Linked DNA regions of Homo sapiens. The protein of the gene in region 4 purifies or fractionates together with the protein of the main gene of each other region. This does not show direct contact. Each region holds a gene or a part of one and is shown on either strand. Other genes may lie near its edges.

Evidence for each region.
Region 1: the proteins of RAB11FIP4 (region 4) and TNIP2 purify together in Homo sapiens (affinity purification with mass spectrometry; 2 studies listed by BioGRID and IntAct, with this or other methods). This does not show direct contact.
Region 2: the proteins of RAB11FIP4 (region 4) and SPECC1 purify together in Homo sapiens (affinity purification with mass spectrometry; 2 studies listed by BioGRID and IntAct, with this or other methods). This does not show direct contact.
Region 3: the proteins of RAB11FIP4 (region 4) and DUSP14 purify together in Homo sapiens (affinity purification with mass spectrometry; 2 studies listed by BioGRID and IntAct, with this or other methods). This does not show direct contact.

The regions. Positions count from the first base shown.
Region 1 is NC_000004.12:2,746,101-2,753,645, forward strand, and holds part of TNIP2 (TNFAIP3-interacting protein 2), read right to left. Parts: intron 1,846-7,545; coding exon 1,555-1,845; intron 1-1,554. UniProt on the Homo sapiens protein: Inhibits NF-kappa-B activation by blocking the interaction of RIPK1 with its downstream effector NEMO/IKBKG.
Region 2 is NC_000017.11:20,012,072-20,019,616, reverse strand, and holds part of SPECC1 (cytospin-B), read right to left. Parts: intron 2,473-7,545; exon of another isoform or gene 2,012-2,472; intron 1,631-2,011; exon of another isoform or gene 1,515-1,630; intron 1-1,514.
Region 3 is NC_000017.11:37,506,569-37,514,113, reverse strand, and holds the end of DUSP14 (dual specificity protein phosphatase 14), read right to left. Parts: intron 3,438-7,545; 5' UTR 3,350-3,437; intron 1,934-3,349; 5' UTR 1,842-1,933; coding exon 1,245-1,841; 3' UTR 616-1,244; downstream 1-615. UniProt on the Homo sapiens protein: Involved in the inactivation of MAP kinases. Dephosphorylates ERK, JNK and p38 MAP-kinases. Plays a negative role in TCR signaling by dephosphorylating MAP3K7 adapter TAB1 leading to its inactivation.
Region 4 is NC_000017.11:31,527,362-31,534,906, forward strand, and holds part of RAB11FIP4 (rab11 family-interacting protein 4), read left to right. Parts: intron 1-480; coding exon 481-562; intron 563-1,044; coding exon 1,045-1,182; intron 1,183-1,258; coding exon 1,259-1,417; intron 1,418-2,964; coding exon 2,965-3,108; intron 3,109-4,254; coding exon 4,255-4,371; 3' UTR 4,372-7,545. UniProt on the Homo sapiens protein: Acts as a regulator of endocytic traffic by participating in membrane delivery. Required for the abscission step in cytokinesis, possibly by acting as an 'address tag' delivering recycling endosome membranes to the cleavage furrow during late cytokinesis.

The DNA.
Region 1 (7,545 bases), on a different chromosome or scaffold from region 4:
TCTAACCTCTGCCCCACGCAGGGTCAGGAGTCACCGAAGCCACAACCCAAACCAACCCCCACTAACAACTACAGAGCTGAATGAAAAGTCTCCTGAAACTCGTGTGTACCCTACAATTCTGACTGTATCTCAGTGACATAATTTTTGAGAATTCCCCTCAAATGACAAAGGAAGTGCACGTCCTAACACAGCCTACACCGGGAAGCCCCGGGTGACTCAGCTGAGTTCAGGGCTGAGAAGTGACACTTATTTAGAGACTGTGATGAGGGCCTACCCTGCCACTGGCCCCACCCCCGCCTCAGGCTCAACACTGTGTGTGGCTCCTTTCAAATCCCCAGAGGGAAATGACACAGTGACTCAAAATCAGACCAGAACACCCTGCCTCCGCCCAGACGGCACTTTTCCTCTGGTTTCTGAATGCAGCTGTGTCCTCTCTGAGGTTCCCCGCCTGGAATCCACCCAGCTGAGGTGGGCAGTTCTCAGACCAACCTTCTCCCCAGTGGGCGCCTCGGTGAAGCTGCTGATGGGTGCGGGATGTACTGTCTGCCACAGAACATCCCAGCGCGTGTGTTTCTGCATGAACCTTGGTGCTGCCTCAGAGAACTGCCTAGAAAGGACCCGAGCGAGAGGCCCTGTGCCCGGCAGTGCGAGTGAGATGGGGTCTCAGCCTAGGTGAGATGTGCACGGAGTGCCTCCATTCCCCTGCCTGCCACACACAGACCACCACAAGCACCAGCAAGATGGAAGGTGCCTGGCACACAGATGCCTTGGGCCACTGCTCCCCTACTTTTCTGCCTAGGAGCCCCCTGGTTTCTCCTGATGCTGAAACTCCCACGGTCCTTCTCTCTCCCACTAGACCCCACAGAGAGCTACAGCCCAGATCCAGCCTATCCTGGAGGTCCAGCGAACCCTTCTTTGGCCCTCACTGTCACTTGGTGCCGCTGCCCCCGGCCCTTGCTTTGATGATGAGGAGGCTGTGGCCCTGAGCCAGGTCTCCAAGCTTGCGGGAGGCCGTGCTGCTGGCAAGGACATGCCTAAAGCCAGCTTTGGAGATGGCGGTTCCAGCTGTGCCTGCATGCACTCAGACACACTGAGCCTGAAGAAGGCGGGCACTCACGGTCCTTCCAGGAGTTTGGGGTGTGGAACTGGAGGCACTCCCCATCCCCAGCAGTACCACCTGGCTCTGCTTCAGTTTCCTCGGATGGAGGATGTGACTACACTTCCTCCAGGCAGCTCTGCCAGGCTCAGCTCCTCCTCCTCATCCTCAGCTGAGGCAGATGAAAGCCAAGTGCCATCTCCCACCTGGGAGCGGGGTCGGCCACAGGCCTGGTGCTGGGCAGTGAGGTGGCTGCCTGCTTTCCTATTACATTTTGCATGTTCCATCATTTTAAAAGAAACCCTTGGATGAGTGAGCTTTGCCCCGTCAGCTGACTCTCGTTACTGAGAACAGAAGTGGGTTCTGGGGCGCCCCCCCACCTCTGTGATCAGGGGCCTGTAGGCGATGCTCCCAGCACACAGAGGTCTTCCCCACACTCTGCTTACACTGTGGCCTACCTGGTCAGGACTTCTCTCCCCCACATTCCTTTGTGCATGCTGTCGTTCATCCAGACACTTGGCCAGATGCTGACACATGTGGGCGGTGGCGGTCAGCGTCCTCCGCAGCTGATGGGTCTCGTTGGCCAAGGAGCGGCACAGGACGTCACTGGCGGCCCGGGCGCGCTCCCCTTCTGCCATGCTCCTCCGTAGCAGGACGACTTCCTTCTCTCGCTCGTGTTGGGGCTGGCTCAGCAGCTGCTGCATCTCCCTCTCTTTTTCTTCTAGTCGCTCAGTCAGCCTCTCAATTTCCTAAGTGGAAGATTTAAAAGCACAGTTTACTGAATTAAAAGAAGCAGTGTCAAGAGCAAATGTTCAGAAAGCAAAAGAAGACCTGGCGTGGATGCCCCATCACCAGACACAAACATACTCACTCAGAAGTTGGGCGTTTGAACTAACAATTACTCACTCAGAAGTTGGGCATTTGAACTATTAACTCTGGAGTTTTTCAGCCTACAATGTTCTGTTCTGAAACTTCATCTCAAATTTTTTTTTTTTTTGAGACAGAGTTTCACTCTGTTGCCCAGGCTGGAGTGCAATGGCACAATCTTGGCTCGCTGCAACCTCCACCTCCCAGGTTCAAGCGATTCTCCCACCTCAGCCTCCTCAGTAGCTGGGATTATAGAGCCCACCACCAAGCCCAGCTAAAAGAATTTTTTTTTTTTTTGAGACGGAGTCTCGCTCTGTCGCTCAGGCTCGAGTGCAGTGGAGCGATCTCAGCTCACTGCAAGCTCCGCCTCAGAGGTTCACACCATTCTCCTGCCTCAGCCTTCCGAGTAGCTGGGACTACAGGCACACGCCACCACGCCCAGCTAATTTTTTGTATTTTTAGTAGAGATGGGGTTTCACCATGTTAGCCAGGATGGTCTCGATCTCCTGACCTCATGATCCGCCTACCTCGGCATCCGCCCACCTCAGCCTCCCAAAGTGCTGGGATTACAGGCGTGAGCCACCACGCCTGGCCCAATTTTTATATTTTTAGTAGAGACGGGGTTTCACCATGTTGGCCAGGCTAATCTCGAATTCCTGACCTTAGATGATCCGCCAGCCTTGGCCTCCCAAAGTACTGGGATTATAGGCGTGAGCCACTGCGCCCAGCAATTTTTTTTTTTTTTTTTTTGAGGCAGGGTCTCACTGTCACCCAGGCTAGAGTGCAGTGGCACAATCATGGCTCACTGCAGCCTCGACCTCCCCAGGCCCAAGCGATTCTCCATCCTAACCTGAGTAGCTGGGACTACAGGCACGTGCCACCGTGCCTGGTTAACTTTTTTGTATTTTGTAGAGACAGGGTTTTGCTGTGATGCTCAGGCTGGTCTTGAACTCCTGGGCTCAAGAGATCCACCCGCCTTGGCTTCCCAAAGTGCTGGGATGACAGGTGTGAGCCACCACGCCCTGCCAAATTCTATTTTCACAAGCAAGTTCATAATTTTAGATTTCATATCATCAAAATGTTTTTTTGAGATGAGGGTTTCGCTATATATAGCCCAAGCTGGTCTTAAACTCCTAGGCTCAAGCAAATCCTCCCACCTCAGCCTCCTGAATAGCTGGGACTACAGGCTCAAGCCACCACACCCAGTTATCATCAAATTATCAAAGTGGCAATTCCAAGCACTTTTTTGATGGGATAGGTAGAAACTCCACTGTGGTGGGTAACCCCAAAAAGATGTCCACAACCAAACCTCCCATTCCCCGGTATCTGGGAATGAAACCTTACTTAGAGATAGGGTCTTTGCAGATGTAATTAGTTAAGGTGGGGACAAAATGGATTAGGACGGGACTGGTGTCCTTGTAAGCAGACAGAAGTCTGGACAGACACACAGAGAGAAGACGACCACGTGACAACAAAGATAGGAGTGACGTCTTGTCTTGTGGATAAAGGCCAAGGAACACCAAGGATTGGTGGCCCCCACAGGAAGCTGAAGAGGCGAGGAAGGGTCCTTCCCTAGAACCTTGAGAGAGAGCCGATGCCTTGGTTTCTGGCTTCTGGCCTCTAGAACTGTGAAAGATTAAATTTCTGTTGCTTGAAGCCCCCCAGTTTGTGTTACTTTGTTACAGCAGCTCTAGGAAATTAACACACCCAACCCCAATTACTTCTTAAAGAATTTAAAAAGGTTCTTAAAATGACAATTTTATTTTGAGATAGGGTCTCGCCCTGTCACCCAGGCTGGAGTACAGTGGTGCCACCATGGTTCACTGTAGCCTCCACCTCCCAGACTCAAGTGATCCTCTTGCCTCAGCACCCTAAGTAGTTGGATTACAAGTGCATGCCACCGTACCTGGCTAATTTCTGTATTTTTTGCAGAGACAAGGTTTCACCACTTTGCCCAGTCTGGTCCTGGACTTGAGTGATCCGCCTGCCTCAGCCTCCCAAAGTGCTGGGATTATAGGCACGAGCCACCACATCTGACCTGACAATTTTTTAATATCTGGCCTTAAATTTGTACTTTTCCGTTTTCAAAGAATCCTCCAAAATAAACAGTACATTACATGAAGGAGGTGAAGCAGGCTCAACTAGTCCATCCCACAAGTGAAGAAACAGTTTCAGAAAAGTCACGGAGGAGCCCAAGCTTCCCCCAGAAGTGGCGGGAGAAGGGTCCAGCCTCTGTGTCTAGTACTTGAGGTAAGAAGGGACAGAGACCGGGAACCTAGAATGTTCTCATCACAATGGAACAAAATACTAAGCCCTATTACTGCGAGAACCCTGATTATTATTATTATTATTATTATTATTATTATTATTTTATTATTTTAGAGACAGGGTCTCGCCCTGACACCGAGGCTGCAATACAGTGGTATAATCACAGCTCACCGAAGCCTTGAACTCCTGGGTCCAAGTGTTCCTCCCGTCTCAACCTCCCAAATAGCTGGGACCATGGGCTCGAGGTCAAGGCTGCAGTGTGCTGTGACGGTGCCACTGCACTCTAGCCTGGGTGACAGTGAGACCCTCTTCAGGGATAAAGGACTTTGAGCAAAACCTGACTTCTGGTTTTTTTTTTTTTTGATAAAGACAGGGTGTGGCTATGTTGCCTAGGCTGGTCTTGAACTCCTGGCCTCAAGCAATCCTCCTCCTGCCTCAGCAGGGGTCACCGTGCCCAGGTAAAATCTGATTTCGGAGCCTCCTTCCTGCGTTGGTCAAATGCTGACAGTAGGAGAAACAAACAGCTCCACAAACAGGAGGGCAGCATGTCCACAGCTCGTAGATCCTGAGGGCGTGGCTCTCTCTTGCCTCCACACCCTAGTACTCAACACTGAGCCCAGCCCCACACAGATGCCCAGTAAATGGGAATAAGACTGGGCCATACAGAGACAGATCAGGACGCAGGCTCTACGCTCAACCCGTGGGGGCAGGCCAGCCCTGCAAAGGGCTGCCCCACTCATCCTCCCCTCGGCAGCATGAGGGCCCCAGGACCCCTCCAGCCCCCGGGCTTCTGGCATTTGTCACTGGCTCTGAAGTTGCAGAGCTTTGTGCTGGTTTATCTGTCTGAGTGCCTTGTCCAGTTAGTAACAGTTCTTAGGACACAACAGCACCTCGACCACTGTGGTCAGAAAACAAGGTACGAGCTGGAGTTGTGGGTCTACACACACAGGCACAACACACAGACTAGTCAGCAACTGGGCTGACATCTCTCAGGAAAGCCTGTCGCCGGGACCCACAACTCCATAGCTCCACGCTCAGAACACAAAAGTGTAAACAGCTCTATTAATAGTCTTGTGGATTGGCCTTAAGAGGCACAGTGGCCTCTTGGCTTTTAGCGCTGCGGCAACAAAGTATCACAAACTTGGTGTCTTAAACAACAGAAGTGTATTCTCCCAAAGCCTGTAATCCCAGCACTTTGGGAGGCCGAGGTGGGAGGATCACTTGAGCCCAAGGGTTGGGACTAGCCTGGGCAACATGGCGAGACCTTGTCTCTACAAAAAATACAAAAAACATTAGCCAGGCATGGTGGTGGGCGTTTGTAGTCCCAGCTACTCGGGAGGCTGAGACAGGAGGATCACTTAAGCCCAGGAGGTCAAGGCTGCAGTGAGCTATGATCATGCTACTGCACTCCAGCCTGGGCAACAGAGTGACCCTGTCAAAAAGAGGGGAGGGGAGGGGAGGAGAAAGGAAGAAAGAAAGGAACAAGGAAGGTGGCCCGGGGCGGTGGCTCATGCCTGCAATCCCAGCACTTTGGGAGGCTGAGGTGGGTGGATCACGAGGTCAGGAGTTCAAGACCAGCCTGGCCAACATGGTGAAACCCCGCCTCTACTAAAGATACAAAAAATTAGCCAGGCGTGCTGGTGGGCGCCTGTAGTCCCAGCTACCCAGGAGGCTGAGGCAGGAGAATCGCTTGAACCCGGGAGGTGGAGGTTGCACTGAGCCAAGATCCCGCCACTGCACTCCAGCCTGGCGACAGAGCAAGACTCAGTTTAAAAAAAAAAAAAAAGGAACAAGGAAGGAAAGAAAGAAAAGAAGAGAAGAGAAAAGAAAAGAAAGAGCCAAGAAAACAAGCAAAGCAAAGCTAAGCTAAGCCGGAAGGGAAAGGGGGCTGATACGCCAGGACCAGGCAAAGCCTATGAAGCTGGTCCCGAGAATGGTGACAGGATGGGGTTGGGCAGGACCAGGTTGCACAATGAATTGGTGCCATTATTCCAGAAAGTATTAACTGGAGGGGCTTTGTAAAGTTATCCACTCAGGCCTTGTGTTACAGATGAGGTAAGGTCTCAAGTCCAGCTGTGGCTGCACTGAGGACCACAATTCTCTGGCCTGATCTTGCCCCATCACACACTGACCGCAGCTTGATCACAGACGCACTGGTCAGCTCCTCCACATTCTGAGCCTCAGCACTCTCTCTGGGAGCCCTCAGTCCCTACTGGTCCAGGGTTCCTGCTCCTAACGGGCTCTCATAGATGAGAGCAACCTAGCAACGGCTTGCTTCCTGCTGTGTCTTTAACTCTGCACTGCCACCTCAGTGAACCCAGGGCCTGCAGGAGGTGACAAACCTCTCCATTCTTCCACAGGTTCCATGACCGACCTCAGATTGAACGTTGGGATGAGCAATAAATATGTAATTGCATAAAATACCAGATAAGGCCAGCACAGTGGCTCACGCCTGTAATACCAGCACTTTGAGAGGCCGAGACAGGAGGATCCCTGGAGGCCAGGAGTTTGAGACCAGCTTGGGCAACATCATGCGACCCCTTCTCTACAAAAACTTAAGAAGTTAGCCAGGTGTGGTGGCTCATAGTCCTTGTGGTAGGCTCTTCGCCTATAGTCCTAGACACTCGGGAGGCTGTGATGGGAGGGCTGGTTGAGCCCAGGAGTTCAAGGTTACAGTGAGCTATGATGGCCCCAAGGCATTCCAGCCTAGGTGGCAGTGTCACAGACCAAGACCCTGTCTCTAAAAAAATAAAAATAAAAATAAAAAAACAAACAAACAAAACTAAATCATTAAAATGTTCCTTAAATAATTAAAAATCCCCCCATGCTGGGCGTGGTGGCTCATGCCTGTAATCCTAGCACTTTGGGAGGCCAAGGCAGGAGGATCACTTGAAGAAAGGAGTTCTAGACCAGCCTGGGCGACACAGCAAGATCCCGTCTCTACAAAAAAAAAATAAAATTAGCCAGGTGTGATGGCACACTCCTGTGGTCCCAGCTATATGGGAGGCTGAGGCAGGAGGATCACGTAAGCCCAGGAGGTTGAGGCCACAGTGAGCCATGTTTGTGCCACTGCACTCCAGCCTGGGTAACAGAGTGAGACCCTGTCTCAAAAAAATAAAAAAATAAAAATCCCAAAACAAAACCTACATGCTTACATGTTGGGAAGACAGGACCAGGGCCAGTAATACTGGGAACACAGAACTAATTCTATCTGAGGCTACCAGGAAGCTGCAATAAGCTGCTTGGTGAGTGGCCAGATACACAGGACACCAGGGAACACATGTGAGCGGAACACCAATGGCCACCGACTGCAA
Region 2 (7,545 bases), about 12 Mb from region 4:
TTGAGCTAAACTTCTCACCTCATGGAATTTGCAGATAAAGTTCAAAAGGATCCTTGCCTTTTCAAAATAATTTTGAATGGTTGAGTAGTCCCTCTGTGCTCTCTCACTGACACCCTCTCAAGGCTGCTGAGCACGTGCCATGCTATGGCTTTCTCCAACATCAGGAAATGTTCTCCACTCAGTTTCACCTTAATACAAATGTGTTCTCTCTTCAGAGAAGGCAAAAAAATTCATGACCATCTGACTGGGAGAAGTCATTTCTAGGTAAAGTGTCCATCTTTTTCTGAGGAACACAGGAGGAAAATCTTACAGAAAAGAGTTAACACAGCAGGCCTAAGACTGCTTTTTAAAATAAATAAATAAATAAATAAATAAATAAATAAATAAATAAATAAATAAATAAATGAATGATAGGGTCTTCTGTATTGGCCAGGCTAGTCTCAAATTCCTGGCTTCAAGAGATCCTCCCACCTTGGTCTCCCACAGTGTTGGGATTATAGACATGAGCCATTGTGCTTGGCCCAAGACTGTTATTCTTAAAAAGTCTCATAAAAAGCATGGTTAATCCTTGGCTGGCACCTGGGAACTTAGATTTCAGAAGGGTTCCCACCATCCAACCTGGAAAGAGGGACTCACTGTGCCTAAATTATTGTGTGGTTTATGCTGAACTCCTGCTTTTCTTCAGGTAGCGTGGAATGTGGTATGTGCTGGGCAAAGGGGGCCTGCATGACCAGCCCCCAATAAAAACCCTGGGTGTTGGGTCTCTAGTGAGTTTCCCTGGTAGACAGCATTTCACATGCGTTGTCACAGCTCCTTCCTCGGGGAGTTAAGCACATACATCCTGTGTGACTGCACTGGGAGAGGATGCTTGGAAGCTTGTGCCTGGCTTCCTTTGGACTTGGCCCCATGCACCTTTCCCTTTGCTGATTGTGCTTTGTATCCTTTCACTGTAATAAATTACAGCCGTGAGTACACCACATGCTGAGTCTTCCAAGTGAACCACCAGATCTGAGCATGGTCCTGGGGGCCCCCAACACAGAAATAAATTATAAAAGACCAAGGACTGGGCATGGTGGCCCATGCCGGTAATCTCAGCGCTTTGGGAGGCCGAGGCAGGAGGACCAGTTAAGCCCAAAAGTTCAAAGTTACAGTGACCTATGACTGCGCCAATGCACTCTAACCTGGGAGACAGAGCAAGACCCTGTCCCCAAAACAATAAACTAAACACATACTTCTGCCTTCCAAGTGTCTTAAAATTCAATGGAATGGTAGAAACATTTTTAAAACACTAAATCAAAAGAAACCTGGAAAACAAGAGTGCCGATGGCCAACTAAAATGTCTAGGAAATTTCTGAAAAGTAAAAAGTACTCAGAACCAGATTACCTGAGCAAACCATAGCCCAATACAAGCTTGGGAGGAGGCTGTTATGCAGAAGGAAATGGTAACAGGTTTCCAGGAACAGACTTGTAACAGCAGATAGAACAGCAGAGGTAGAACCTGACAAGGTGATTACCTGGGGAACTGCAGTCTGAATGACCAGGACTGTTGGACCCTTCCCCTCACATGGAATACACACGCCACTCAGCAGCACACCACAGCTCTTCAACAATCACAGGAGGCACGCTACGCCTAGTAAGACAGGAAAAAAGGAATTCTCAAACTTCGAAGATGAACACATAAAGAATCACCAAGTTTTTATTCAGTATGATGAAACAGGGACACTGAATCAACAGAACACAAACCCAAGCAAAGATAATTACTAGAGCACATAGAAGAAATTATTAGATATTCTTGGGAAGACCTAAGGGGACATTATAAAGAGCAAGCAGTTGGTATGTGACGATCTTTGTGATATACCAAGAAATAAAAACACAGGATGAAGACCAGATAGAGAATAATGCTACTATTTGTGCAAAAAAGGAGAAATGGAGAATCTGATTCATATTTGCTTGTATTTGCATGAAGAAACTTTGGAAGGTACATAAGTAACTAACAACAATGGTTACCTACTTGTAAGGCGAGAGAAGTAAGAGGACAGGAATGGTGGGAACACCTTTTGTGTCCGGAATTGGTGGGTTCTTGGTCTGACTTGGAGAATGAAGCCGTGGACCCTCGCGGTGAGCGTAACAGTTCTTAAAGGCGGTGTGTCTGGAGTTTGTTCCTTCTGATGTTTGGATGTGTTCGGAGTTTCTTCCTTCTGGTGGGTTCGTAGTCTCGCTGACTCAGGAGTGAAGCTGCAGACCTTCGCGGCGAGTGTTACAGCTCTTAAGGGGGCGCATCTAGAGTTGTTCGTTCCTCCTGGTGAGTTCGTGGTCTCGCTAGCTTCAGGAGTGAAGCTGCAGACCTTCGAGGTGTGTGTTGCAGCTCATATAGACAGTGCAGACCCAAAGAGTGAGCAGTAATAAGAACGCATTCCAAACATCAAAAGGACAAACCTTCAGCAGCGCGGAATGCGACCGCAGCACGTTACCACTCTTGGCTCGGGCAGCCTGCTTTTATTCTCTTATCTGGCCACACCCATATCCTGCTGATTGGTCCATTTTACAGAGAGCCGACTGCTCCATTTTACAGAGAACCGATTGGTCCATTTTTCAGAGAGCTGATTGGTCCATTTTGACAGAGTGCTGATTGGTGCGTTTACAATCCCTGAGCTAGACACAGGGTGCTGACTGGTGTATTTACAATCCCTTAGCTAGACATAAAGGTTCTCAAGTCCCCACCAGACTCAGGAGCCCAGCTGGCTTCACCCAGTGGATCCGGCATCAGTGCCACAGGTGGAGCTGCCTGCCAGTCCCGCGCCCTGCGCCCGCACTCCTCAGCCCTCTGGTGGTCGATGGGACTGGGCGCCGTGGAGCAGGGGGTGGTGCTGTCAGGGAGGCTCGGGCCGCACAGGAGCCCAGGAGGTGGGGGTGGCTCAGGCATGGCGGGCCGCAGGTCATGAGCGCTGCCCCGCAGGGAGGCAGCTAAGGCCCAGCGAGAAATCGGGCACAGCAGCTGCTGGCCCAGGTGCTAAGCCCCTCACTGCCTGGGGCCGTTGGGGCCGGCTGGCCGGCCGCTCCCAGTGCGGGGCCCGCCAAGCCCACGCCCACCGGGAACTCACGCTGGCCCGCAAGCACCGCGTACAGCCCCGGTTCCCGCCCGCGCCTCTCCCTCCACACCTCCCTGCAAAGCTGAGGGAGCTGGCTCCAGCCTTGGCCAGCCCAGAAAGGGGCTCCCACAGTGCAGCGGTGGGCTGAAGGGCTCCTCAAGCGCGGCCAGAGTGGGCACTAAGGCTGAGGAGGCACCGAGAGCGAGCGAGGACTGCCAGCACGCTGTCACCTCTCACTTTCATTTATGCCTTTTTAATACAGTCTGGTTTTGAACACTGATTATCTTACCTATTTTTTTTTTTTTTTTTTGAGATGGAGTCGCTCTCTGTCGCCCAGACTGGAGTGCAGTGGTGCCATCCTGGCTCACTGCAAGCTCCGCCTCCCGGGTTCACACCATTCTCCTGCCTCAACCTCCTGAGTAGCTGGGACTACAGGCAATCGCCACCACGCCCAGCTAATTTTTTATTTTATTTTTTTTTTAGTAGAAGCGGAGTTTCACCATGTTAGCCAGATGGTCTCAATCTCCTGACCTCGTGATCCATCCGCCTCGGCCTCCCAAAGTGCTGGGATTACAGACGTGAGCCACTGCGCCCTGCCTATCTTACCTATTTCAAAAGTTAAACTTTAAGAAGTAGAAACCCGTGGCCAGGCGTGGTGGCTCACGCCTGTAACCCCAGCACTTTGGGAGGCCGAGGCGGGCGGATCACGAGGTCAGGAGATCGAGATCATCCTGGTTAACACAGTGAAACCCCGTCGCTACTAAAAATACAAAAAATTAGCCGGGCGTGGTGGTGGGCACCGGCAGTCCTCGCTACTGGGGAGGCTGAGGCAGGAGAATGGCGTGAACCTGGGAGGCAGAGCTTGCAGTGAGCCGAGATAGTGCCATTGCCTTCCAGCCTGGGCGACAGAGCGAGACTCCACCTCAAAAAAAAAAAAAAAAAATAGAGACCCGGAAAGTTAAAAATATGATAATCAATATTTAAAAACACTCAAGAGATGGGCTAAAGAGTTGACGGAACAAATCTAAATATTAGATTGGTGACCTGCAAAACCAGCCCAAGGAACATCCCAGAATGCAGCCCATAAAGATAAAGAGAGCATTTCCGCTGGGCACAGTGGTATGGCAGGGGAATTGCCTGAGTCCAAGAGTTGCAGGTCACATTGAACCACACCATTGCACTCCAGGCCTGGGCAACACAGCAATACTCTGTCTCAAAAAAAAAAAAAATTAAATTAAAAAAGACAGAATATTTGAGAGAAAAAAATGCTTATTTCAAGAAACATGAAAGATAAATCAAGATATTCTAATTCCCAAGTAAGAATAATTCCAGAAGCAGAAAATAGAATAGAGGCAAGGAAACACTCAAAACTTCTCCAGTGCCATAGAAATGTGTATTAATCTTTAGAATGAAACGGACTACCAAATGCTGAGCAGGAAGAACAAAAGAGATCCACTCTTAAGCCAGTGTGGTGCCCAAGCGCAGTGGCTCATGCCTGTAATCCCAGCACTTTGGGAGGCCGAGGCAGGTGGATCACCTGAGGTCAGGAGTTTGAGATCAGTCAGGCCAACATGGTGAAACCCTGTCTGTACTAAAAATACAAACATTAGCTGGGTATGGTGGTGCACATCTGTAATCCCAACTACTTGGGAGGCTAAGGCAGGAGAATCACTTGAAACCAGGAGGTGGAGGTTGTAGTGAGCCGAGATCATGCCACACTCCCAGCCTGGGTGACAGAGCAAGATTCCATCTCAAAAAAAAAATCCACTCCTAGACAAATAATAGTTAAATTTTAGAACACCAAGGAGAAAGAAAAAAAATTGTAAAGCTTCAGAGAAAATAAACATTAACTACAAAGAAACGAGAGTCAGACGCGTGCACTTCTTCCTAGATACCAGCAGATAAAGCAATATCTCCAAAATTCAGAAGGTTTTAACGTAGAATCCTATACCCAGTCAAGAATATTCACATGGAAAAGTGAAATAAAAAACATTGTTTAAACATGCAAGGGTTCAGAAAGTTTACCATTCACAGAATCCCTGAAAACAAAACCAAATAATCACTTAAGGACTCATTAAGAAAACAAATGAAATAAAAGCACCAATGATGAGTAAATAATCAGAAAAATTTACAGTTTACCTAAATAACTGTTTATGCATAATGTATGAAAACCCAAAAATTTAATATGGGACAGAATTAAAATCATGATAAGATTCTTTTTTGCTTTACTCATGGAGAGTTCACATAAACAGATTATCTTTTAATAGCAAGAGAAAAAAATGTTTAGATATGTGTGAAAAACTAAGGGTACCAAAACAGTGCAAATTCATTTATCATCAGGAAAATCCAAATTAAAACCACAGTATCCACCAGAATAACTAAAAGGTAAAAGACAGAAATTACCAAGAGTTGGCAAGAATGTGGAGCAACCACATATACTTCTGGGGTAAATAAGTTGGTGCAACCGGTACTGAAAACTGTTTGCTAGTATCTACTAAAACCGAGCACATGCACAGACTACAACCAAGCAGTTCCACTCCCAGATACACACTCAACAGAAATGCACACACTCACTCAACAAAAGACGTGTACTAGAGTGTTCATGTACTTACTATTCATAATAGTCCAAAAATGCAAACAACCAACTGCCAATCAAAGTCAAATGTATATCTATATTAGGGATATATACAATGGCATATACACAGCAATGAGAATGAAATGAACCAGCTCGGCACAGTGGTTCATGCCTGTAATCTCAGCACTTTGGGCGGGTAAGGCAGGCAGATCACTTGAGGTCAGAAATTTGAGACTAGCCTGGCCAACACGGTTAAAACCTGTCCCCACTAAAAACACAAAAATTAGCCGGGCATAGTGGTTGCAGGCCTGTAATTCCAGCTACTCGGGAGGCTGGGTTGGGAGAATCGTTTGAACCCGAAAGCCGGAGGTCGCAGTGAGCGGAGATCGTGCCACTGCACTCCAGCCTGGACGATAGAGCAAGACTCCGTCTCAAAAAAGGAAATCAAAAATATAAAATAAGATGACAGGAATAATCCGCAAAAGATCAGTAATCAAAATAAATATAAATGGGCTAAAGCTACCTATTAAAAGACAAAGATTTCACACCCATAAGGATAGCTACTATCAAAAAAAGAGAGAGAATAACAGATGTTAGCAAGGATGTATGGAAACTGAAATTCTCACGCATTGCTGGTGAGAATATAAAATGGTTCAGCCTCTGCGGAAAACACTATGCTGGGTCATCAAAAAATTAAAAATAGAAGTACTACTTGATCCAACAATTCTACTTCTGGGTATATACCCAAATAACTGAAAGCAGGGTCTTGAAGAGATATTTGTACACCCATGATCATGGCAGCATTATTCATAATAGCTATGATGTGGAACCAACATAAATATCCTTTGATAAATATATGGATAAGCAAAATGTGGTGTATACATTCAATGGAATATTAATTAGCAATAAAAATGAAGAAAATTCTGACACATGCTACAACATGGATGAACCTTGAGGGCATTACATTAAATGAAATAAGCCAGTTATAAAAAGACAAATACTATATGAGGTACTATATTAGATACTCATGCAAGGTACCTAAAATAGGCAAATTCATAGAGACAAAAAGCAGAATGGTGGTTGCCAGGGGCTGCGGTAATGGATACAGAGCTTCAATTTTGTAAGATGAAAAAATTCTGGAGATTGGTTGCATAACAATGTGCACACACTTAACACTGGGGAACTGTAAACTTAAAAGTAGTAAATGGTAAAAATAAAAATAATAAATAATAAATTTTATGTTATTTTACCACAATATTTATTAAAAGACAAAGATTAACTAATTAAACAAAATCCAGCCATAAGCTAATGGTAAGAGTAACAATTAAAGAAGACACAGAAAATTGAAAATCAGTGACTAGAAAAAGATATTCCATATAAATGCTAACAAAAAGCAAGTACAGCAATATAAAGAGAATGAACAAAAAAAAAATTAAATAAGATGGCTCGTTTATTCCCAAAAGGTACAATTCACCAAGAAGATACAAGAATTGTGAACCTTTAAGCACATAAAACAGCTTCAAAAATACAACATTTAAAGAAAAATATATATTAAACATAGAAATAGTACAAAAACCCCTACAAGAATCATAATGGGAGTCTTCAATACAACTCTCCATATCAACAGGTCAAACAGAGAAAAAAAATAAGTTAAGGATGCAGAAAACCTGAATTACCATCAATAAACTTGAGATTAATATAGAACTGTATACCCAATATACTAAGAGTTCAGGGAACAGTCGTGACTGACAGTGGACTGCAAATTAATCTGTTCTTAATCTTTGTTTTTCTTTCAGCACTGTGGCAGAATAGAGATCCTAAAAACCTTCCAGCTACAAAACATCTTTTTAAAAATATAAAAAAATACAAAAATAACTCTGA
Region 3 (7,545 bases), 6.0 Mb from region 4:
GCCCTCCATGCAGAAGAAAGGCATGCCCTAGGACAGTGGTTACTTGGGGGCACGTGGAAAGTGCCCAGGAGTGTCCCAGGAGTGGGACAGGGGCGAGCTCATTCACCTTCTACCATGTATCTGATGATGATGAGCGGTGCTGCCCGTTTTATCAGGAGCAGTGAACTGGGTGACAGACAGTCCCAAAGTTAAACAAAGGCAGCCATTGTTTGTTTTTGTTACTTGCTTATCGCTCATACTGAGGTTTGGTTTAGGGCATTTTCGTATGTGGTAATAATAGTCAAGCAGAGGCACCTTTTATTGAAAACCAGTTTCTCTGATGGAGGACACGCTGCTTCGGGGCGCTCCACTAACCAAGAGGAAACCAAAACCAGCACCCCTGATCAGAGCGTGCACTATCAATCATCTCCCACCGGCCCAGCACCGGGGACGGTGTGTCTGCCTGTCCACCAGGATGTGACGCGCCGACAAGACTCTGCTGGGATGTGTATTTTAAGTAATGTTCCCAACTGGCACAGGAGCCACATTTCAGCAGTTAGTTAGTTAGTTACTGGAGAGCACCTTTTTCCCATCATCGACACACACACACCTTGAAATTATTAGTAAAAATTCTAATATGTTAAGCATATAGATTTATTAAAAATAATGCTAATATAATCCTGGGCACATGGATTCCAAGAGAGATTTTGCAGCAGATTTCATTATAGTTACTTAACAGCTAAATAATAAGGGTGTATTTAACTTACTTACAGAGTCACTAAATAATGGAGGGGAAAGGAAAGAGTAGGGCTAATCCAGTAGAGACTGAAGCTGGTTATCAACCTTCCCTAAGCATCTGTCTGGTCCGCAGCCTGGGGCAAAGCTTGTCTCTAAAGGGTTAATGAGGCCCCAAAGTGATTTTTGCACTGAGCTCCTCCTGCACCTACCAAGGTGCCAAAGGCATGAGATTCAGAAGAGAGCAGAACCAGTTTATTAAACTGTTCAAATTGGTAAAAATGATTAAAAGCTAAAGATTTCCATAAACACTATTCCAAAATGTTAATTTTAAAAATGTGACTAGCAATGTATGCATTCCCTTTATGTCCCCTCCCTCCCTATCTCTTAAAATAAATTTGAACACCCAGTGTAAAAAACACTTGAGGGAGAACCAGAAGTCAGCCATTTGAGAAGAGAGTGGAGAGGGAGCAGACGGCGGGGAGCAGATGCCGGCCCCGCTCGGGCTGCTGACGCAGGCTTCAGTGGCACTAAATCCCCCAGTAAGGCATCAGGTGTCGGGACTCCTTCTCATAGACGTCGGGAACTATGCCATAAGGTGTCTGTACCATTTTAACTGTCGACTTCCCAAAGAGCTGGCGCTCGTAGTCTATCAGTTGCCTCCAGAAGCCTACGTTGGGCCTGATGACAGGTCGCCGGGCTTTCACCCAGTTGTACGCCTCCAGCAGGCACACGTTGTGGAATTTCATCAGGTACGCGATACACAGCGTGGCTGAGCGGCTCACCCCTGCAGCACAGTGCACCAAGGTGGCCCCGTGCTTCCTGCTCACACTGTGGATCTTGTCAGCCACGGTGTCAAAGTACAGTCCAATGGGGGCATGCGGCATGTCAGCCAGAGGCACTTTAACATACTCAAATTGGGGCCAGTTGAAATTAGGGATCTCAATGGTAGCATTAACAATGCAGGTGATGCCACGAGCCTGGAGGAGGTGCCGATTGGAGGCCACACTGCCTCTGCCCAGGAATAGAGAGGAGGTGATTTGAGCAATGCCTCCTATGTCTCCCTCGGAAATCATCCGAGGGGCCATGAGAGTCCTTGGTAGCGTGCTGTGACCTCTGGAGCTCATGAAGACGCCAGCAGTCACACTTGCATCGTTGGCGGCAAGACCAGAGTGTTTTATTTTCCTCCACCAAGGAATCCAAAATTAGAGTCTCCTTCCTGCAAAATACAGGTATGTGTCAGTACTTTAAATGCTACTGATTCATCACAGCCTTCTGTCACATTTGTCAAATGGGAAGATTAGAGGGTTTTTTTTTAAATAATACAGTACAATCTTTCAAGGATACAGACAAATCATTTTCTATCAATTAACAGTTGGGAAAAGTCACCTAAGACACAAACATGTGAAATCAATGTAAAATTCAGCTCTCTGGTGATTGTCCAAAAAAAAAAAAAAAAAAGTGGGGTGGGGGGGGGGTGGCTGGGCATGGTGGCTCATACATGTAATCCCAGCACTTTGGGAGGCTGAGGTGGGAGGATTGCTTAAGCCCAGGAGTTCAAGACCAGAAGACCAGCCTGGGCAACACAGTGAGACCCCATCTCTACAAAAAAACTTTTTATTTTTTATTTTTTATTTTTTTTTAATTAGCTGGGTGTGGTAGTGCATGCCTGTAGTCCCAGCTACTCAGGAGACTGAGGTGGGCAGATCACTTGAGCCTGGGAGGTCGAGGCTGCAGTGAGCTGTGATTGCACCACCACCACACTGCAACCTGGGCAACAGGGAGACCCAGCTTCTAAAAAAAAAAAAAAAAAAGGAAAGGCCAGGTGAGGTAGCTCATGCCTGTAATCCCAGTACTTTGGGAGGCTGAGGCGGGTGGATCACCTGAGGTCAGGAGTTCGAGACCAGCCTGGCCAACATTGGGAAACCCTGTCTCTACTAAAAATACAAAAATTAGCTGAGCATGGTGGCGAGCACCTGTAATCCCAGCTACTCGGGAGGCTGAGGCAAGAGACACGCTTGAACCTGGGAGGCGGAGGTTGCAACTAGCTGAGATCGTGCCACTATACTCCAGCCTGGGTGACAGACTCTGTCTCAAAACAAAAACAAAAACCCAAACCAAAAACTATTTCCTATCATTTCGTGACAATGTAAACACAGTAGCATTTCCATGGAAATAATCCCAGGCAATTTGAAGGCCATGGTCTTCAAAGTTCATTCCTGTAAGTTAAATGAGCATTTTACCTGACCTGACCTTGGGTGTGGCTAAATAACTTCACCTTAATTCTGAGCTCCACGATGAAGCCCACTGGCTTTTAACGTCTGAACGTCACTATCCTCTCATTATTCCAGTGTTTGCTATTAAATGTCAATATATACATTTACATATATATTGATATATATTATATATATATTGACATTTAATAAGAGCAGAAAAGGAAGTTCTCAGTTTCCTGAGATCTTAGATACATCCGTTCCTCTCACCAAAAAAAAAAATCACAATGCTTTATCACCTGTGCCCAGTGGCAAGTGCGCCTGCCCACACACACCCAGGGGATCGTCGGGAAGCCTGCAGTGATTTCAGTCAGACAAGAGCCTCCCCGGGTTCAACAGGCAGGCAGTGGTGGGGTACTCACTTCCTCAAGAGTCCAGTGTGCGCTGCCTGGGTCCGGATCCAGAAAGTCCTAAGTGAGCAGTGCTGGTGACAGTGGATACAAATCAAATCTGCGGGAAGACAAGGAGGCAAGGACACAGCCAATCAGGAAGTTCCAAAGAATTCCTCACCGACTTTCACTACGACCTCAGGTTTGACTGAAATAGAGCCAGGAAGCGGAAGGTGCACTGAACATTCGCAGGTGTGCATTTAAAGGCTGCACCAGTAAGAAACACCGGCCTAAATCTCAGCTTTTTGTTACTGACACATAACCCGCGGCGTGACAAATAAGAGTTTTGACAATAACACAGACAAATCTCATCCTCTTGAGAGGAGGAGACTCAGAGACCACAACCTATCCGCGAAATGTCCGGCACTGCTGCCTCCTCGGTGGGCTATGAGGACACAACACGGACTCGAGTCTCTTCCATGCACCGTTAGCCAGCCCTGCAGTGGGAAGGCCTGGGCGGCACCGCGGTGGGAGGACGGACAGGCCAGGTGCAGCAAGGGTGAGCCAAGCAGCCCTGTGCCTGAACACAAGGTGGAGGACAGTGTGCACCAGGAAGCTAAGGACAGGCATGGCCGGGACATGGCACGGAGGACGGCTTCATGAGGAGCAGGACCGCAGATGTGGCTGCAGCCAGGAACGCTAATTACAGGCGGTGCTGGTGTTCAGGATGGCAATTTGACATTTTCCTTCATTTTGTTTTCTTTTCCATGTTGGCCCTATTTTATTCATTTATGTTATGTAAGTACCATGAACATCATAAAAAATGTGTTCTTCTACCACCTGTTCCCCCACCTTTCCCAGGTAACTGTCAGACCTGTCGTGTTTTTTTTACAGCTCTGTTGAGGTGTTCTTGACATATAAACTGCTATACAACTTGATCAGGTACATTACCTGATGAGTTCTGACATATGTACACAATGGAGACACCAGTACATCATAATAATAAACACATCCATCATCCCCCTCAAAATTTCCTCATTTTTTTTAATAATCCAACCCTTTCTTGCTCTTTACCCCATTCCCAGGCAACCACTGATCTTTCTTATCACTATGGTTTGCACTCTAGACTTTTCTATCAATGGACTTTTATATATTTATAGCATATAAATATATATAGGCCAAGCGTGGTGGATCACGCCTGTAATCCCAACACTTTGGGAGGCCGAGGCGGGTGGATCACTTGAGGCCAGGAGTTCGAGACCAGCCTTGCCAATGTGGAGAAACCCAGGTCTCTACTAAAAATACCAAAATTATCCGGGCATGATGGCACACACCTGTAATCCCAGCTACTTGGGTGGCTGAGGCAGGAGAATCACTAGAACCCAGGAGGAGGTGGAGGTTGCAGTGGAGCCGAAATTGCACCACTGCACTCCAGCCTGGGCAACAGAGCAAGACTCTGTCTCAAAAACTAAACACACACACACACACACACACACACACTATATATATATATATATATATATATATATATATATATATATATATATATATATAGTGTGTATATAGTGTGTATATATAGTGTATATATACATATATAGTACACATATACATAGTACATATATATATAGAGTGTGTGTGTGTGTGTGTGTGTGTGTGTGTGTGTGTGTGTATATATATATATATATATATATATGGGTTTTTTTTTTTTTTGGTCTGGCTTCTTTCACTCTGCATAACTTAGACATTCACCCATGACGCTGGGTTATCAACAGCTCACTTCTTAAGTACTCTGCTGTGTAGATACACCACACTCTGTTTATCCATTCACCTACTGATGAACCTGGGTTGTCTCTAGTTTAAAGGTATTGTGAGTACAGCTGCTATGAGCATCCACGTACAGGTCTTTGTGCGTACATATGCCTTCCTCTCTCAGTTCAATACCCAGGAGTGAAGGGCTGGGTCCTATGACACGTATGTTTAACATTTTAAAATGGTTTTTGAAAAAAAAAGTTTATAAATATACATATATATTTATTTATACATACATATATATATATATATATTGAGATGGAGTCTGGCTCTGTCACCCAGGCTGGAGTGCAGTGGCGCAATCTCAGCTCACTGCAACCTCCACCTCCCAGGTTCAAGAGATTCTCCTGCCTCAGCCTCCTGAGTAGCTGGGATTACAGGCGTGCACCACCACACGTTGCTATTTTTTGTACTTTAAGTAGAGACGGAGTTTTGCCACATTGGCCAGGCTGGTCTCAAACTCCTGACCTCAAGTGATCCACCCACCTTGGCCTCCCAAGGTGCTGGGATTACAGGCATGAGCCACTGTGCCTGGCTCCATTTACAACTATTTCTATCATTATAATGCAGGGGCTCTCAAACCTGAGCATGCCTCAGAATCCCCCAGAGGGCTGTGCGCACAGACTGCTGGACCTTTCCCCAGCTTCTGATTCCGTCCCTCCAGAGTGGGGCTGGAAGAGTTGCCTTTCTGAGGTGAGGCTGCGGGTCGGGGGCACGTCTGAGAACTGCTGCAGAGGTGAGTGCTGTGGCTCTGTCTGCATTCCCCCTGGAAGACTGAGGCACCAGGTGTACTGGTGCTAACAGACCACAAGTCCCTCCTGGACACTGCCCTTCTCTGAAGGGAGCTGCCTCCTCACTCGAGGCTAGGCCTCGCTTTGGGAGCCCACATCCCATGACTGGTTAATGCTATGGGAGTACACAGAGCAGTCCACAGGTGAAATCACAGCATGAGGAGGAACAAGGACGCAGTCACATAAGGAAACTGCGTGTGTGTGCATTGGATGTAAACTATGAACAGGGCAGAAACTCTGAGAACATCCTTTCCTACAGCAGAGCAGGGTCTCCTGCCACTTCCAAGTCTTCCCTGGCAGAATCCTACTGGTTTAAAAAGCAAAGTCACTGTGGTAATAAACACAAAATTAGGCCTTCAAGCTGCTGGGGATGACGCTCCTCATTGTGGAAAATCTGGAAGATGCTAATCAAATTTCCAAGTAGGTTATCTAGTTGTTGTCTAATTCAGAGAGGCTTGGCCATAGACACGGTGGCTTACGCCTATAATCCCAGCACTTTGGGAGGCCGAGGCGGGCAGATCACCTGAGACCAGCCTGGGCAACATGGTGAAACCCCGTCTCTACTAAAAATACAAAAATTAGCCAGGTGCAGTGGTGCATGCCTATAATCCCAGCTAGTAGGGAGGCTGAGCCAAGAGAATCGCTTGAACCCGGGAGGAAGAGGCTGCAGTGAGCTGAGATCGCGCCATTGCACTCCAGCCTGGGTGGCAGAGCGATGCATCCTCCCAAATTACGCTGTCTGGGAAGCCACTTGCCTTCCTGAGGCAAAGGAGCCCAGGTTCCCTGTAGAAGCCGGGCTGATTCCGTTAACTCGCATTTGCTGAGTGGCGCTAGGGTACTTGGTGCTGCAGGGAAAACAGATTGTGAGCCCTCGGGGCAGAATCCAAGTGAGACAGACACATTGCTCCCTCCCTGCTGCTGCCAGTCCATCTCTTTGCCAACAAACCTGCTTAAAATGCCAAAGCTGGTCCAAAGTTTCAGGAAAACAACTTCCGCCAGAGGGCACGTAGAGGGCACAGATGCTATAGATGCTTCTCTGACAAACACTCCTGACCCCCTTGACAGATTGGAAAATACATGGTTCAGAAAGGGTGAGAGATTTCAACTTGAGAAGTGAAACTAGGAAAAGATGGAAGGTGTCCGGATTTCTAGCTCAAGTCCACACACTGCTTCTCTGCGGTGACTAAATCGTGGCTGTGTTCTCATCACCTGCCTCGCGGCGCTCCACACCACCAGCCAGCGTCTGCCACACACGCGGGGGGGTGTGGATCTGCCTAAGAAGGTGTTTCAGTGCTACTTACAGAAAGGCTAAGCCCAGATGGGCCGAGCTGCTCCAGTTTCCCCTAGTGCCAGAACAGGGAACTACTGCCACATCCTGGTACACCATTTGGTGCACAAAACATCCCCCTGGCTGCAGAGGGTGGACCTCAGCAAGGAGCAGCCCCAGAGTAGGCACTACAAGAAGCCCTAGAGTCAGCCAGTTCTCAGATCAGATCAGTAGAACTGGATGGTAAAAAATAAAAAACCCATGGGTATTATATCACAGGTGCATGAAAATCTACTCAGTAAATGTGTCCTGGGAGACAGGGAAAGGAGATAGGGTAGCAGAGTTTGACCCGTATTTGAGGG
Region 4 (7,545 bases):
GGCCAAGGTGGGCGGATCACATGAGGCCAGGAGTTTTTGAGACCAGCCTGGCCAACATGGCAAAACCCGTCTCTACTAAAAATACACAAATTAGCTAGGCGTGGTGGTGCATGCCTCTAATCCCAGCTATTCAGGAGGCTGAGGCACGAGAATTGCTGAAGGAGTTAGAGGTTGCAGAGCTGAGATTGTGCCACCTCACTCCAGCCTGGGCAACAGAGCAGGACTCTGTCTCAAAAAAAAAAGAAAGAAAATAAGAATGATAATTTACTATTTTGCTTACAAATAGTCCTTACTATTTTGCTTTGGCTGATAGGAAGCTCACGGCTAAATTGTCTTTGACATAATAATCATATTCTTTCTCTCAGTTGGTTTCTGGTATCTTTCCTCTGGGAGGAAGCAGAGAATCACTGCAGACTGGCAGGCGCTTATCAGATAGTCTACATTCCAGGTTTCTGAGATTTGTCTTTCTCCTTTCGCCAGGGTGCAGCAGTTGGAGGAAGAAAATACAGAGCTTAGAACAACAGTGACTCGGCTCAAGTCTCAAACAGAGAAACTGGATGAGGTGAGCAGCAGATCCAGGCTTGGAGGGGCAGGGCTGGCCATCGGGAGCCTTTAGTTTATTGCTTCTGAAATTCTAAACAAATGCCGCACCCCCTAAGAAATGCAAAAAAAGTGAATAACAACTTGTGTTTCTGTATTTCTGATTTTCCAAGTTTTCTACAGCGAATGTATTTATTACTTTATACAATGGAGAAAAATTAGTTTTAGAAAGAGGTTAGCTTCTATTTGGGCTAACACCTTCAATTCAGGTTGCATCTAGCATCGTTGAAGGACTTCAGAGGCCTGAGGTTTTTAGTTGTATTTCTAGAATCATCGGGGCTCTGGCCGTTTCTGTAAGCCAAGACTCAGGGCTCCGTCTAAGGGAGCTGGTTTCACTGTGCATCTGCCTCGTGAAGATGGCTGACCAGACCCCAGGGACACCCCTGGACATAGTGAGCCCCTCTCTGGGAACTCTCCTCCCCTGATCGGGTCTCCCTGCTCCAGGAGCGGCAGCGCATGTCTGACCGTCTGGAGGACACCAGCCTGCGGCTCAAAGATGAGATGGACCTGTACAAGCGCATGATGGACAAGCTGCGACAGAACCGCCTTGAGTTCCAGAAGGAGCGGGAGGCGACGCAGGAGGTAGGTCCCAGGCCAGCAGGCACCAGGGCTCCTTCCAGCATCCCTGCTCCTGCCAACCTGCTTCTCTCCCTCGCAGCTCATCGAGGACTTGCGGAAGGAGCTGGAGCACCTGCAGATGTACAAGCTGGACTGCGAGCGGCCAGGCAGGGGCCGCAGTGCCTCCTCTGGCCTAGGCGAGTTCAATGCCAGGGCCCGCGAGGTGGAGCTCGAGCACGAGGTCAAGCGGCTCAAGCAGGTGGGTCTAGCAGTCTCTGTGTCCAGTGGGGCAGGGTGGCCGGGCCCACCACGTGGGTTTCCTGTGCAGGATCTGTGGTAGGGGAGCCCAGAGCTGTAGCAGCACTGCCTGTCTGCTTCTCAGCAACCTGTTTGCCAGGGCTGACTGCCCCATTTCACAGCTCAGGAAAATCGATCCAAAGATCTCTCCCTTACGTCTATGTAAGGAAATAGACCCTGCCTTGGTGCTCAGGGTGGAGGATGAGACCATACCCAGCTGCAGTATAGTGCCTGGAGGCATTGGGTTCTCCCAGAAGTAGACCCTCACCCAAGGTTCCTTTTTTTTTTTTTTTTTCCCAAGAGACAGGGTCTTGCTCTGATACCCAGGCTGGAGTGCTTTGGCACTCCATAGCTCACTGCAGCCTTGAATTCCTGGGCTCAGGTGATCCTTCTGCCTCAGTCTCCCTAGTAACTAGGACTACAGGCACACACCACCATGCCCAGCTAATGTTGTTTTTGTTTTTTGAGGCAGGGTCTCACTGTGTTGCCCAGGGTGGAGGGCAGTGGTGTGATCACAGTCACTATGGCCTCAAATTCCTGGGCTCAAGCAATTCTCCTACCTCAGCCTCTCGAGCAGTTAGGACTACAGGAGAGCACCACCACACCTGGCTAATTTACTTATTTATGTATTTATTTCCAGAGATGGGGTCTCCCTATATTGCCCAGGCTTGAACTCCTGGGCTCAAGGGATCCTCCCACCCTTAGTCTTTGAAAGTGTTGGGATTACAGGAATGAGCCACTGTGCCTAGCCAGAAGATTACATTTCAAGGAGCGCTGCCTTAGCTAGAGACCTTTGGGTGGGGGAGTGGATCAGGAGGAGGCAGTGGCCAGGTGGTGCTGGGTGAAGTGTCAGCTCTGCCTGACCCTGCAGGTGGAAGAGCCTGCAGCATAAATTATCCTTCTGAGTTTGTTCCACTGGGGACAAAGGTGCTGGTGGCTGTGCTCTCACAGAAATCCTAAAACCCCAACCCTTCTCCTAGTCTAGGGGTGGGGTGCCCAGGGTCCCAGGTGTGAGCATTAGGGCTCTTTAGGCAAAAGCTGGAGTGTGAGACCGGTGCATGGGATCTGGGCGGGTCCGCCTGGGTCAACTCCAACCAAGCAGGATTCGGAACGTGGCTGCTGGGGGAGCCAAGGAAATGAGCTGGCCAGCCTGCCCAGAGAGCCCAGAGCATCACTTCCTTCACTGGGCTGCTGGGTGGGTGATGTCCCTATGCAGGGCCTAGGGAGGAAGGGATGGCCAGGAGCCTTGGCTGCGCTGAGCAGGGCTGTAACTCCTCCACAAACCCTGTGCACTCCCAGGATGCCAGTCCCCTGGACCAGGACCCAGCCCTCCTTGCCCCCAGCGCTTGGCAAAGGCTGCAACATCTATGGCCCCTTGAACCAGCCGTGACACACACCTGTGGGAATGGCGCTGGCGGCAGGTCGGGGACGGTGGATGTGGAGAAGTGGGTTCCAGTGGGCTGTGGATGCCTCTTGGGGTTGATGTCGCCTTCGTCCTTCTCTCTGTAGGAGAATTATAAGCTGCGGGATCAGAACGACGACTTGAATGGGCAGATTTTGAGCCTCAGCCTCTACGAAGCAAAAAACCTCTTTGCTGCCCAGACTAAAGCCCAGTCTCTGGCTGCGGAGATAGACACCGCCTCGCGCGATGAGGTAACCACACCACCGGCTCTTGCTTTGGGGCCTGGCCGCCCTCTGTGATTCCTTCTCCCGGCCCCCACCTGCCCAGAGTGAGAAAACCAGACCAGGGCCTGGCAGAGAGTCCCATCTACAGCTACCCCACATGACAGGGCAAGGCTGTGAGCAGGGGAGGGGGCTGCTGGAGAAGTTAAGTCAGCTCTGAGTTCCGCCTGTGCTGGAAGGAGTGCGGGTTTGGTTCAGAGTGGAGTGTGAGTCTTAGGTCGGCCAGAAAAATGCCAACATAGCCAGCTGAGTGGATCAAGCTGTGACTCTGGGTTAGGCTATCACTCCCGCTCTTCCCAGTCCAGAGAGGGAGGACATTAGCATTTCCCCAGCACCTGCTTCTGCGGTGTGTTTTCACTTAATCTCCTGATGACTCTGAGGCTTTAGGAACAGCTCCACATTCCAAGCTGGGAAGGTGGAACCCAGGACCACCCAGCTAGGGAGGGAGAGGGACCCAGCTCTCTCCAAAGCCAAAGCCTACCCTTCCTGCCACACCAGAGTATGCTTATGAAAGATCAGGCCTCCAAAATGCCCCGGCTGCATTGTAACATGAATTACAAGACACTCTGTCACTGAGCCTCACCCTCTGCCTGGGACACGGGGTGAAGAGCTGACCTCTGTCCTCAAGGAGCTCCCAGGTGAGCTGGGCCCCAACCCCTGGGCAGAGGCAGCATGTCAGCAATGTCCGAAAGAACACTGCCCTGGAGAAGAGCAGTGTGGGGCTGGGGGTGGGGAGAGGTGTTCCAGGCAGGAGACAGCTCCCCTTTGGAGTCTTAGCGGCCCTGGGACTTTGTCAGTCTTGATTTTAAATGACTTTGGCTAGTGTTTTCTACTTTTGCAAAAAATTACCCACACCTGGGCCCCCTCTACAAACTGATCACATTGGAATCTCTGGGGGTGGGGCCTGGGCACCTGCATAGGTAATACTAGGGGCTGAGCCACTTCGACTCTGGTCCTGGCATCCAAATGCTGAGGCTGTCCTGGGGCCCACCTTGCCCAGGATCTCCTGATGCCCTCTATTGTCAGGCACTGGCCTGCGACAAGCCTGGGAGTCTGGACTCTGCCTGCACCCTATCCCAGGCCCAGCCACTGACCCGTCTTTCCCATTTCCTTCAGCTAATGGAAGCCCTGAAGGAGCAGGAGGAGATCAACTTCCGGCTGAGGCAGTACATGGACAAGATTATCCTCGCCATCCTGGACCACAATCCCTCCATCCTCGAGATCAAACACTAAGGCACGGGGCTGGCTGCAGAGCAGCCTTAGGACCCTGGGACCAAGGGCAGACCCTGCCCAAGGATGCAGGCCTAAGCCGGGCCTCACACTCACACTGTAAATGTCTCTCTGGCCACCATGCGTTACGTGTACCCGTGTATATGTGGGGAGGCTGTGCACACGAGCGAGGGGTGAGTGGCCGTGGCTGTGGGCAGCATCCACACGGTTAGCCGTGCATGCACTTTGTGGCCCCTTTGCAAGGGGCAGAGGGTACTGGAAGTGGGAGGAGGCAAGGTCTGCTATCAGGAGTTACTGTAAAAACAAGAACTGGAAGCTCGTGTTTCCGGTACTGGGTAAAATGATTCTACCTCTGGGGATAAGGATTCACATTCGCTCTAGTACGATGGGCTCTTTCACCCCACTCCTAGTCCCCTTGGGAGTGGGAGCAAAATTGTGATCTTTCCTAGGAGTTTGAATGCCCCATATTTGTGTCCTCGCCAGCTCTTTGGCCACCTTTCAAGCCCCAGTGTTCAAGCTCAGAGAGGATGAAGGGGCATCTGGAGGGTCCATGAGATGGGGCCCTCACCAAATGCCTTGGCCACCGGCCAGCAGCCCTCTGTGATGTGTGTGCAGAGTGAACAGAGGACTCAGGTTTCATAGCAGCTAGTGCGGGGCATCCTCATCCTGTACCTATAGAGTTCGTGCACTCCCCCATCCATGCTACCTACCTCCCCGTTTCTGTTTCAGTTTTAAGACAATGAAGCAGCATTCACTGCGTCATTGTAACATGAAGGGATAAAAATGAAGGAGAAGGAGGGTTTGGGATGGGTGTCTAAGGCAGGAGTTGACATCGGGCAACCAAAGAAATGAGTTTTGGGGAGGAACACAACTCCCATCCCAGTCAGTTTCCTTCCCATGGCTGCATCTTAAGATGGATGCACGGAGAAACCGTCTGCCTGGCTCCCTGTCTTCATTCTCCACGCAGCCTGGTGATGGCAGGCCTGGGTTTGGATTTCAGAATCCTAGCTCCGGGCTCCACTCGTGTGGCAGCAAGACTGCTTCGTTCCAGCGTTTAGAAACACACCTGTATTTGATTCTCAGCCAGGGGAGCACTCGCTGCACTGGTGGGAGGCGGTTGGGAAAGTTGCAGGAAAACCTTAGTCTTCCATCCTTCTGACCCATGGTGGAAATTCACACCATGGATTTTTAATGGATCTTTGTTCTAGGCAGCTGGGAATAGACATGGTACTTACCTTAGAGTTTTCCAATTTATCTCAATTTTATATGGCTTGTGATTCATTTTCTTAATCCAAATATATATAAACGTGTGTGGTCTTATTCTTCCCCCTGCAGTTTCTTGCTTTCTTCAGCACATCTTATAGTATGAGAAGGAAGGTTTGGGCATGTTGGGAAGGGCGGTGGAGGGGGAGTTGCAGAAAGAGAGGGCAGTGAGGGTGAGGAGAGGGGATCTGGGGACTTGGGTGTGACACCTGCTTGACAGAGGCAGGGCTGTGGCCAGGACCAACCTTCAATTCCATTCCAATCAGCCTTTGCATTTGTTGGATCTCGTGGCTTCTTTTTAATCTTTTGTTGGGGATTAGTTTCATGCTGCACATAATGGGGTTGCACTGGTCTGACCCAGGACTTTGGAGCCACCCACACTGGGAAGACTAGGCTAGGCAGTCGGTCTTCTAGGAGTTTCTCAGCCCCTTAGGACGCGGGTCTCCTTGGGCTCCCCCAAGGGTTCTGCGAAGAGGCAGTGGAAGAAGGCATGAGGAGAGGGTCTCTTGAGAATTTGCCAATAGGAAGGAGTGGCCACGGCTGAAAGGAACAAGACAGATCCTGACATAGCTTTGGCCTGGGTGTTAGGTCAGAAGGAGTACTGGTGCGTGGGGGCCTTACCCCAGGGTTGAGTATTTTATCTGTAAAATGTTATCTGCCCTTTGGCTGCATTGGAATTTCAGAGAAGGCTGCAGAGGCCTGGGTTACACAGCCTGAGTCACAACGTGGGAAGGAATCTCTGCCACGGGAAAGGTGGGCGGAAGCAGCTGGCAGCCTGGGGCGTGCTTCAGGCTCCTCCCTCTAAGGGGCGCCATGGGAACAGGCTCCGGAGGGAGCCGGCGTCTGAAAGGCCCCCGGGACCTGCTGCAGTGCCAGAGGGGCCTCTGGAGCAGGCCTGGCTTTTAAATGGGGGGCTGAATTCCAGCTCACACACACCTCAAGTCCAACCTTACTTTCTTCAGCCAGAATACATTTCTTGTAAAACCTGGCTTGTTGCTTGGCTTTTAAAGATGGTGTATGTTTGTAAAAATATTCTTCTGGGCTCAAAAGCTAGCTTGAGGGGGCAGATGCCCCAGGTGTCCCAGCTCCACAGCCCCTGGCAGATCCCAGACCCCTTGGTGGCAGGTCCCAGAGCCTAGGTGGTAGGAGCTTGATCTTTGTTTCTGCCCTTACCCCTCAGTAGTGGGGCTGCGAGGTAGTAGACAGGATGCCCAGTTAAGTTTGAATTTCAGATAGAAAATAATTTTAGAATAAATATGTTCTATCTAATACATGGGACAGATGTTATTTTTAGAGATAGGATCTTGCTCTGTTGCCCAGGCTGGAGTGTAGTGGTATGATCATAGCTCACCACAACCTTGAACTCCCAGGCTCAAGCGATCCTCCCGCCTTAACTGCCTGAGTAGCTGGGACTACAGGCATGCACCACCACGCCCAGCTAATTTTTCTTATTTTTTGTAGAGACAGGGTCTCACTGTGTTGCCTCACTCGAGCTGCTGACCTCAAGTGATCCTCCCACCTCAGCCTGCCAAAGCACTGGGATTACAGGCATGAGCCACCATGCCTGGCCAGGACATATTTGAAATGGGGAGATTTTAAAAATTCTGATGATTAGACTGAATCCTCAGACGTTCTGGTTTGATTGTTGTGGGTGTAGCCCAGGCATGGGATTTTTTAAAGAGCTGCTCAGGTAATTCCAATTTAATTGCGTGTCCTACTTGGGTTTTTTGTTTGTTTTTATTGTTTTTGCTAAACCTGGCAACCCTACCGAGTAGGGATTAGCAGTAACTTATCTGAAATTTAGAGGTGTTTTGGGGGTGGGGCGAGGGTTTCTGTAGTAGACTCAGATTTTACATGGCCCTGAGCTGCCCTTGCGTTCAGTTGGAAGCCACGCAAAATGAACTGAACCAGGAG